2 separate regions of the Homo sapiens genome follow, and region 1 is linked to region 2. The links come from fine-mapping of genetic effects on gene expression. A gene starts in region 2. The other region holds a variant in brackets. All regions are shown on one strand. Distances are between the middles of the regions.

Region 1 (5,304 bases), 28 kb after region 2:
GCTGGTTTGAGGAGGGGCCCCAGGCCCACAGCATGACTCCCTGCTCCTCAGATAAGTATGCTGTGCGCTTCATCCCTCGGGAGAATGGCGTTTACCTGATTGACGTCAAGTTCAACGGCACCCACATCCCTGGAAGCCCCTTCAAGATCCGAGTTGGGGAGCCTGGGCATGGAGGGGACCCAGGCTTGGTGTCTGCTTACGGAGCAGGTCTGGAAGGCGGTGTCACAGGTAAGTCTGTCGGTGCGGCTGCACGTGTGCACACAGCTGCTAGGCCCTTGCCTCCAAGCTCTTGGTGACAACAGGAGGCACCTGGAGGTGACAAGCCTGTGCTGGGTGGCCGAGGACAGGGAGGCAGGCCAGTCTGGCTCTGCCTGACCTCCTGTGCTCCCAGGGAACCCAGCTGAGTTCGTCGTGAACACGAGCAATGCGGGAGCTGGTGCCCTGTCGGTGACCATTGACGGCCCCTCCAAGGTGAAGATGGATTGCCAGGAGTGCCCTGAGGGCTACCGCGTCACCTATACCCCCATGGCACCTGGCAGCTACCTCATCTCCATCAAGTACGGCGGCCCCTACCACATTGGGGGCAGCCCCTTCAAGGCCAAAGTCACAGGTGAGCCTGGGGCCAAGCTATTGGCATCTGCCCAACGCCCGGCACCACAGCCACCTCTTAGCCCCACCCACTCTGCCTTGCAGGCCCCCGTCTCGTCAGCAACCACAGCCTCCACGAGACATCATCAGTGTTTGTAGACTCTCTGACCAAGGCCACCTGTGCCCCCCAGCATGGGGCCCCGGGTCCTGGGCCTGCTGACGCCAGCAAGGTGGTGGCCAAGGGCCTGGGGCTGAGCAAGGCCTACGTAGGCCAGAAGAGCAGCTTCACAGTAGACTGCAGCAAAGCAGGTGGGCAACCTGGGCCCCCGGCCCACCTTCCCACCAAAATGAGGCCAGAAATCACAGGATGGCCAGTGTCTGGGAGAGCAGGGACCGCCTTTGGGGCGTGGCTTTCACTTCTAGAGCCACCTCCCTGCCACCTCCTGGACCCCTCAAACAAAGACCAGGGAGGAGCTGGAATCTGCTAAGCTGGCCTGGGTTGGGGAGGTGCTGGCAGCTCTTTAGGAAGAGAGAACTGTCACCCCAGAACTGGCTTAGGGACAGGAGAGGAGAGCAGGACACCAGCGGGAGGAAGGGGGCTGGGACCTGGGACTGAGGACCCCTCTTGCCTCAGGCAACAACATGCTGCTGGTGGGGGTTCATGGCCCAAGGACCCCCTGCGAGGAGATCCTGGTGAAGCACGTGGGCAGCCGGCTCTACAGCGTGTCCTACCTGCTCAAGGACAAGGGGGAGTACACACTGGTGGTCAAATGGGGGGACGAGCACATCCCAGGCAGCCCCTACCGCGTTGTGGTGCCCTGAGTCTGGGGCCCGTGCCAGCCGGCAGCCCCCAAGCCTGCCCCGCTACCCAAGCAGCCCCGCCCTCTTCCCCTCAACCCCGGCCCAGGCCGCCCTGGCCGCCCGCCTGTCACTGCAGCCGCCCCTGCCCTGTGCCGTGCTGCGCTCACCTGCCTCCCCAGCCAGCCGCTGACCTCTCGGCTTTCACTTGGGCAGAGGGAGCCATTTGGTGGCGCTGCTTGTCTTCTTTGGTTCTGGGAGGGGTGAGGGATGGGGGTCCTGTACACAACCACCCACTAGTTCTCTTCTCCAGCCAAGAGGAATAAAGTTTTGCTTCCATTCTCCTTTGCGTGGCTGTAGCTTTGTTGGGGTTGGGGGACCAGTCAAGGCCAACCTGACAGGGGTGCCAATGAGCAGATCAAAGCATGGGCTGAGCACAGGTCACCTCCCTCCAGGGCTCCTGCTTCACCCCACCCTGACTCCAGAAGGCACCATCTATCTTTGCTTCCTCTGCCTCCCTGAGTTCAAGCCAACGTAAGGAGAGGAACATGTAGCAACCTGGAATGGAGCCCAGGCAGCAAGGAGGCAAAGAGCTGGGCAGGAGAGCCCATTACTGGGTAGGGTGGTGTCAGGAAGGCTCCCTGGTGGAGGTGGCCAGATAATCAACAGCAGGCCCGGCCGGGTGTGGTGGCTCACGCCTGTAATCCCAGCACTTCGGGAGGCCGAGGCAGGCAGATCACAAGGTCAGGAGATCAAGACCATCCTGGCTAACACGGTGAAACCCCGTCTCTACTAAAAATACAAAAAATTAGCCAGGTGTGGTGGCGGGCGCCTGTAGTCCCAGCTACTCGGGAGGCTGAGGCAGGAGAATGGTGCGAACCCAGGAGACAGAGCTTGCAGTGAGCCGAGATCGCGCCACTGCCCTCCAGCCTGGGCGACAGAGCGAGACTCTGTCTCAAAAAAAAAAAAAAAAAAAAATCACAGCAGGCCCTGGCCATCTGCCAGGTAACTTGAACATGCCACCATGCCACCATTCCCCCAAACAAGGGACTGGGATGAGGCCCCCTCCCCCAGGCTCTGGGCCTCAGGGCCCTTTAGTTAACAGGTGGCAGGAGGTGGATGCATTCAAGGTGCCAATCCCAGGTACCCTGGGCCCCCTGCTGAATATCCCCTCATTGGTACCCCTGCCGTGGATTCCCACACCAACCTATGTGTCTCCCACTGTAAAGATTGCCCCCAAACACATAACATCCCAAGTCGTCCTGGCTCCTGGTGCTGCCTGCATGCTATCGGGACATCCCAACTGCAGCACCCAAAGCTGCCTGCTCCCTGGGCCAAAGGCTTTGGCCCTCGATCAAACCCCTGACAAGGACACCACCACCTCAGACATCTGCAGACAAGGGCCAGGAAGCAAGGCT[C/T]TCGGGGGCAACGCTCAGCTTTCTCGCCACATCCTCCCTCAGCTCCACAGCGTCTGACACGACCAGGCCGTAGCCTGCAGCCATGGCACACGTCAAACCCAGACCTTCTGAGACCTCAACACCACGCGTACCCTCCTTGACCCCTGTTGAGAGGGCAAAGTAGAAAAGGCAGCGGCAGTTCAGGCAGGATGGCTACTTTTATTTCTCACTGGGGCTGGGCTGCTGGCCCCAGGCTCAGGGCGGCCACTCACTGGGAGACACGGGGCAAGCAAGACACAGAAAGGGGAAGTCCCACCCCCAGCCGCAGCCACTCTACTGCTCCCCCTGGGCCCAATGGCATAGAGGTAAAGGGGCCAAGCACACTCTGGAAGCCTCTAAAAGCCACCAGCTGAACGGGGCTGTGAGGCAGCAGAGCCAGGCCCAGAAAGATGCAGTGCCAGTTGGGAGGACGGGAGGTCCCCCTGAGGCTGCGACTTGTCCGCTCAGCCCACTGTGTGCCCAGGATTCTGAACCTCTGGGGCACTCCCTCCTGTCCCGAGTCACCCAGGGTCTCCTGCCCCCTCCCTGTGTCTGCTCCATCACATCCCCTCTCAAGCCCCATGCCTGGCAGGGCCACCGCCCTAGGGCTGGGCTAGGTGAACCAAGGGCACCGGTCCCCCAAACCTGCCGATCGTCCCCAGGCTGCAGGGAGGGACACATGTGGGGCGGCAAGGGCAGAAGATAAACTAGGGGGATCCGGGCCCCTGAGGACAGCCCTGGCGGGAGGCCACAGGCCTCACAGGGTGGTGAGCTGGAGGCCACCCAGGCAGGCAGGCAGGCAGCAGGGAAAGAGACTGGCACGGTCCTGGCCAGGGCCCCCCCCGGGAAGGGCGGGCAAGTAGGAGCAAAAACAAGAGCAGAGCACGGGCCCCCACCCTGCCGGGTCCTATGGCCTGGGGACTCACACACACTGAGGAAGACCCAGGAGGACCCGCCAGGCTACTAGGAGGAGATAAAGGGTGCACAGGCCTCCAACCCGCAGGTTGTGTCTGGACTGAGTCCAGGGAGGGCAGGGAGGGGCGGTAGCCCAGTTGACCTTCCCTCCCCCAAGCCACACCTCTGCACCCCAACCCTCCCTTCCGCCTCCCAACAGCCCCATCCCCGCTCTCCGAGGAAACTGGGAGGGGACCTGGAGAGGAAAGGGAAGCAACGGCCCCTCAGAGCGGGGTTCCCCAAAATCCATGGCCAGGGACTGAGGCCAGCACTCAGACACTGTTGGGAACACTGGCCAGGAGTCCCTCGGGGTGGACCTGGGAACCTGCTGCAGAAGCTTAGGGGACCGGGCCAGCTCAGGAAAGGGCTCAGGCTGGAAACCGAGCAGACAGGGCACCGCTGGACCTGGGGCCGAGGAGGACAGGAAGTAGGTGACTATGGAAAGACCCCCGCCGCCACCCACGCCCAACTCGGCACACAAAGGCCCAGAGAGGCCCCCAGACATGCCTGTGGGGGCAGGGGTGTTTGCAAACATTTGCAGAGGGACCGGGTGTCCCAGGCACATGGACAGCTTGCAGGGCCCGGCTGAGGCTAGGACAGCAGCAGGTGGCTGGCAGGAGGTGCCCCGCCAGGGTCCCCAACTGTGTGGGGGGCAGGCCCGAGGCAGGCGGCACCAGTCCCGGGCAGGATCTCTCGGAAGAGGGGCCGTACCCAGCCAGGGTTCCCAGAGACACGGGTGGTGGGGCCGAGTGCCCCCTCACCCTGTGCCTGGCCCCCAACAAAGGGTGAGCATGTATCCTTCCTGGACACGGTGTCCAGGGCAGGGCACTCCCGAACCAGGATGCCCCCTAGGCCACAGGACCCCTCAGCCCCAGCTGACAGCAGCCGGGGGGGATCTGGGGAGGCCCCCAGGAGGCAGGGCGGCAGCCAAGCAGAACACCATCCCTGGACCCACTCTCCAACTGCAACCAGGGCCCGCTCCCCCGAAGGCACCAGCTCTCCCTAGGGGCAGGACCTTGATCCAGAGCAGGAGTGGAGGCCCCCAACAGGGGACGGCTGGAGAGGCCCTGGGCTCACGAGCCAGGGAGCGGCGCCTCTGTGCCCGGAAGCCCCTGGGTCCTGCCTGGGCTGCTGGTAGCTGCTGCGGGCCGAGGGGTCCGGACGCCCCTAGGGTGCTCTGGGGCAGCTCCTTTGGGACCCTCAATGGAGCCAGTAAGTCCAGGAGGGCGCCGATCCGTCCAGGTGGGTGCATGGGCCGGGACAGGGTCTGGCTGCTGTCGTGGCTGTGCCCATCTGCCGAACAGGTCGCTAGGAGAGCACTCCCTGAGCGAGGGCGCCGGGCAGCCCGGGGAGGGAGGACACAGTCCCCGTCCAGGCCCCCGAGGCCCCCATAGCAGGGAGAGCCGGCCCTCCTCGCTGTTCTTCCCGCGGGATCGGGCCGGCACCTCGGCTCAGGGGAGAGAGGGTCACAGAGGACAGCCAGCAGGCAGGTGGCCCAGGAGTGTGGGGGGTCGGTGGGCCTGACCGT
Region 2 (5,364 bases):
TTGATCAGATATTGGCTGTCTCATGGAGAAGAGAAAGGAGGTGACATTCATCATTCATATTCTTTTTTTTTTTTTTTTTTTTTTGAGACAGTCTCGCTCTGTCACCCAGGCTGGAGTGCAGTGGTGCAATCTTGGCTCTCTGTAGCCTCCACCTCCCGGGTTCAAGTGATTCTCCTGTCTCAGCCTCCCGAGTAGCTGGGAGTACAGTCACATGCCACCATGCCTGGCTTTGTATTTTTAGTATTTAGTATTTGTATTTTTAGTAGAAACAGGATTTCACCATGTTGGCCAGGCTGGTCTCGAACTCCTGACCTCAAGTGATCAGTCCGGCTCGGCCTCCCAAAGTGCTGGGATTACAGGCATAAGCCACCGCGCCTGGCTGTGACATTCACATTCTAAACAAAGCCAGCTGAGGGTGTATGGAATCAACTAGTGTGCCCCTCACTGGGTAGGCCCCAAACTGGGAGCATGAAGAGGTGACATGCCATCTGTAGTTTCACAGTTGAGGGCTGGTGACAAGGGAAGAAGAGGGGAGGGCTCTGGTCATGTCCAGAATGGCTGGCCTGGCTGGTGAGGGTCACAGACCAGTCATCCATGGAGGTTTGCCCATGGGGTGGGAAGAGGTAGACACCTGGGGGAGTAATGAGGAGATGGGGCCCTGTTTTGACTACACGCAAAGATCCTAACAAAGAGGAATCACTGTTGGCAAGGCCCCACTGTGTCCCCAGCAATATGGAAGGAAGTGTGGGTCCATGAAGACAGTGCCTGGCAGTGTGCAGCAGGAGAGCCTTGGGTAGGGCAGGGGTTTGCACCTCATCTTTCAGAGCTGAGGGGACAGATGGCAGTTTGGACTCTGGGCTGCTCAGAGGCTGCCTTGTGGATTTTTTAGTTTTGACAAAATCAGATTCCCCAGCACCTCTGCAAGCCTTCTGCAATCCTGGCCCCTCTCCCAGAGGCCTCTGTGTACTAAGTGCTGCTCCATCCTCCCCCATGCCACCCCTCCCCATACGGATCCAAGCTGTTTCCTTATGAGGTCAAGGAATTCTAGATTTGCCTTCTCCCTAAGGAGCACCCCCCACCCGTTCTGTACCTGCCTCGACACTCTGCCTTTTATGTCCCACCCCTTTGCCCCACAATCAGGTCCCACCACAGATGGCACCAGGAAGCTGAACTGTGATGGTCCCCCTGCACCCACCCTGTGGGTACCTGGAGCCTAAGTCCAGCCCCATTGCAGTGCAGCTCCACTCCAGACCACTGGAAGCCAGGCAGGCTCCTGAGCAGCAGAGCCTCCATCTTATACAGGGAGAGTCAGGACCCTGCGATCAGGGGAGACTTGTCCAAGAGCCCTGAGTACAGCAATTAATTCATGGAACATTCCCCCACCAGTACCTGGTCCCTGGGGGTGATGACCTGGACAGCCTCAGAGAGTTTCCCGTCAAGGGTAGGGTGGGATTTGCAGTCATCAGAGGGTCTGGGAAGGGCGTGTGCAGGAAAATCTGAGGGCCTCAGGGGGTTCTTCCTGGGAAGTGCAGGCAGAGGAGACATCGGGATGCAACCAATTCTAAGTCAAGAATAAGAAAACTGAGTTGCTCCTTAAGGATGGAATGGCTTGCAAGCAGTATATGCTGTATAACTTACAATCCCAACATGATTGAGTTACGAGGAAAAAATATCAACATGGAAACATTCCTCAGTGTCTATGACAAGTAGATGATTGTTCACTGAGCTGTTAACGTTATTTTTTTATTTGTATTTTTATTTTTATATTTATTATTTTTTTCCAAGACACAGTCTAGCTCTATCACCCAGGCTGGAGTGCAGTGGCGCAATCTCAGCTCACTGCAACCTCCGCCTCCCAGGTTCACGCGATTCTCCTGTCTCAGCCTCCCGAGTAGCTGGGATTACAGGCGCCTGCCACCACGCCCAGCTAATTTTTGTATTTTTAGTAGAGACCGGGTTTCACTGTGTTGACCAGGCTGGTCTCAAACTCCTGACCTCGTGATCCACCTGCCTCAGCCTCCCAAAGTGCTGGGATCCACCACGCCCGGCCTTTTTTTTTTTTTTTTTTTTTTTTTTTGAGACGGAGTCTCTATCACCCAGGTTGGAGTGCAGTGACGTGATCTCGGCTCACTGCAACCTCTGCCGCCCGGGTTCACGCGATTTTCCCGCCTCAGCCTCCCGAGTAGCTGGGATTACAGGCGCCTGCCACTGCGCCCGGCTAGTTTTTATATTTTTAGTAGAGACGGGGTTTCACCATCTTGGCCAGGCTGTTCTTGAACTCCTGACCTCGTGATCCACCCACTTCGGCCTCCCAAAGTGCTGGGATTACAGGCATGAACCACCGCACCTGGCCTTTTTTTTTATGTTTAGTGACAGGGTTTCACTGTGTGACCCAGGCTGGAGTGTAGTGGTGAAATTATAGCTCACTGCAGCCTCAAACTCCCGGGCTTAAACGATCCTCCCATCTGTCTCCTGAGCAGCTGAGACTACCGGTGCACGTCACCACGCCCAGCTAATTTTTATATTTTTGGTAGAGATAGTGTCTTGCTGTGTTGCCCAGGTTGGTCTCAAACTCCCGGGCTCAATTAATCCACCTGCCTCAGCTTCCCACAGTGCTAGGATTATAGGCATGAGCCACCATGCCCGGCCAATGTTTTCTTTAAGATCAGAATCTTCTTAATACTAAACAAACTTAACTTTCTCGTCCCCCTGAGCGATCCTGTTTCTGCTGCCCACCCCAGGCCAGACCTGGCAGCGCCTGATCCATGGCAGTCAGGTTCATCCCAGGGCTCGGAGCCCTGCAGTCCCGTCCCGGGGCCCTGCCTGACGTAGGCGCCCAGCCAACACCTGCAACGACCTGTTGCCCCCACCCCAGGAAACAATCCCGGCTTGGGACAGACACCAGGGGCTGTGACTGTGGGTGGCTCCTTGGAGAAGGTGGCCTTGGGCCTCGGCCTTTCCACCTGGGGTGCGCTTGGCTCCCCCAGACTCAGACACGCAGGATCCTTGTGATTGGGCCTAGACACGAGCCCTGCAGTCCCTGTGGGCGCTGGAGGCGACTCCCCCACGAAGCCCTCCCTCCCCCAGGGCCTGGCGGCCCTCGCCGGCGGTGAGCTCATCTCGGGGGGCGGCGTCGCCCGGCGGCGGGTCGCTGGAGCTCACGGCGTGCCCCCGCACCCCCGCCCCCCACGCACCCGTCCCGGGCTCCTGGGCAATTTTACCAATTAAGGCTTTCTCGCCGGGCCGGGCCGGGCGCGGGGCGGGCGCGGGGCGGGGGTGCGGCCAACAAGAAGGCGGGCGGCGGCGGCCCATTCGCGTGGAGGCGCGTCGCGCGCAGCGGACGCCGACAGAATCCCCGAGGCGCCTGGCGCGGGCGCGGGCGCGAAGGCGATCCGGGCGCCACCCCGCGGTCATCGGTCACCGGTCGCTCTCAGGAACAGCAGGTGAGGTCTCCGCGGCCCGGCTTCGCGCCGTAGGGTCGCCGCGCTCCTCGTCGGCCGGGGGCGGGGTTGGAGAAGGCGGGCAGAGAGGCCGGAAAACGCAGGCGCCAGCTCGCGCCCAGGTCCGGGCCAGGTTCAGCTGGGATGCGTGAGCCGATGGAGGCTCCCCTGGCATCTGGGAGTGAGTGTCCAGAGAATAGCTTCCCTAGTTGACCCACGAGCCATGTCTGTGCCCACGAATGTGGGAGCCTGAGGCCATGGGGGGTCCCCGAGAGAGAGAGGGTGTCTGGGCACTTGCCCATGAACGGACCACTGCATGCCTGAGAGAGAAGGGCCCTGACACCAGGAACTTGTGTGGACTCAGGGCGAGTGGCCACCTGGAAGGACACTTCTCAGCCAGTGTGCCCACTGGGAGGGGGACAGCGTGTCCCTTGCTGGCTCGAGTCCACAGGGCACCAGCTGCTTTGGGCACAGGGGAGCTGGTTCTGGGGCTGCTCTACTCCATGGGGGCCATGGTGAGGATGAGACCAGGCCAGGTTCCTTGGTTGGGCCCTGGGCCCTATGCCAGGTTGGCTCTGAGTTGGATGCGCACTGCCAGCCAGGATATAACCAACAATGTCCCCAGATTCCCGTGCCACCTGGGGCCAGGCAAAATAGGTTAAAATCCACTGGCAGACCCATTTGTAAGTGCTCCGAGTGCACCGTCAAGGTGGGAGCTTGGGAATGGGCGACCTCACCTGCCGCACCTGGACTTGCCAGCACAGGTCTCTTCTCACCTTGCCAGTCTGCGGCTTCCTTCCCTCCTGCGCCCCCTGGCTACGCAGGCCTGGAAACAGCTCCTTAGGGATCCCAGCTGAACAGCTCCTGGGCTTGGGCTATACCTCCCAGTGGGAGGGTCTGGCCTGGGGTCTGAGGGCCAGGGGTGGTGTGGTGGGCGGGGTGTGCCTAACATCCAAGAATCTACTCCAAATAAGGGAAAATATGAAAGAGCTGGATTTTGGCTTCCCAGGACTGCCCGATCTGGTGGCTTTGGGATCGGGCGACATCTGGCGGTTGATACTATGTTCTAGGGACAAGAACCCTCTACACGCCCATTCCTTGTTTCCTCTAAATAGGGAAAAGCTAGGGCTGGAAGACACGGCACCCACCTCCTGACACTCTTTCTGCTGGAATTGACCACTGGTCACTCTGACTCAGTTTCCCTGAGCTCTGAAGATTAAGGAATGAACCCAGACAACCCAGCTCAATGGCCCTTAGTGGAGAGAGAGTCAATTATTGATGGAATTCCGTGCCTGGGAACTTGCTTTCCAGTGGGGCAGGGGGACCAGAAGGACAACTTCAAGCCCGTCTTGAATGGGGCCCGTGCAGGGAGGGGTCTGTATGGGTTCCCCCTTCCCAGCCCTCCCTCCCACCTCCACCCCAGCTCCCAGACGCCCAGGCGCACTTGGTGCAGGTGTGTCTCAAAGTGGTCAGGAGAGGGGACAATATACAGGGGTTGGCCTCAGTACTGGAAAATGCCATTTGCACCCCCTAACACCACTACTAGTGGGAAAAACCAGTGGGGCCACAGGCTGCCCCGAAGTGAATGTGCTGGGCGGATCACAGCCCCACCACGTGTCATGTAGACACCCAGGGCTACAGGAGAGTCAACCATATTTGGGCATGACGTGCTGGCCAACCCAGGGCCTCCATCTCTCACTGGTCTTTAGCAGATAAATTAATTATTACTAGAATTGAACAGGAGGGACAGATACCTGCCTTCCTAGAAAAAAAAAAAAAACACTCAGAGGAGGAAACATTCTGGAGAGGGGAGGTACCGAGGACTGAGAGGGAGGGGAGTGCACAATGGGGAGGAAGCCATAGGCAGGCTGGCTTCTGACTGAAGATAGTAGCAGTGAGCGTCCCCAGCCGTCCCCTGGTCCCA

What was found. PIP is the estimated chance that this variant, and not a neighbour inherited with it, causes the effect. A credible set is the group of variants that fine-mapping cannot tell apart.
Region 1: its variant is the best candidate, but not a certain one, in a credible set for the expression of FLNA in whole blood (TOPMed, PIP 0.90).

Annotation. Positions count from the first base shown.
Region 1 is chrX:154,344,955-154,350,258 of GRCh38, reverse strand. FLNA (filamin A) reads left to right here. Exons shown (of 48, transcript NM_001110556.2): 45 at 52-228; 46 at 392-610; 47 at 694-897; 48 at 1,223-1,728. The coding sequence ends at 1,410. Among named protein-coding and RNA genes, the nearest start is that of FLNA, 27 kb to the left of the region's middle. RefSeq lists enhancers at 2,506-2,595, 2,626-2,765. The variant C/T (reference allele first, on the strand shown) is at 2,805.
Region 2 is chrX:154,372,585-154,377,948 of GRCh38, reverse strand. It overlaps FLNA (filamin A), which reads left to right and starts at 3,315. Exons shown (of 48, transcript NM_001110556.2): 1 at 3,315-3,443. RefSeq lists silencers at 3,229-3,368, 3,379-3,438, 4,981-5,040 and an enhancer at 4,528-4,577.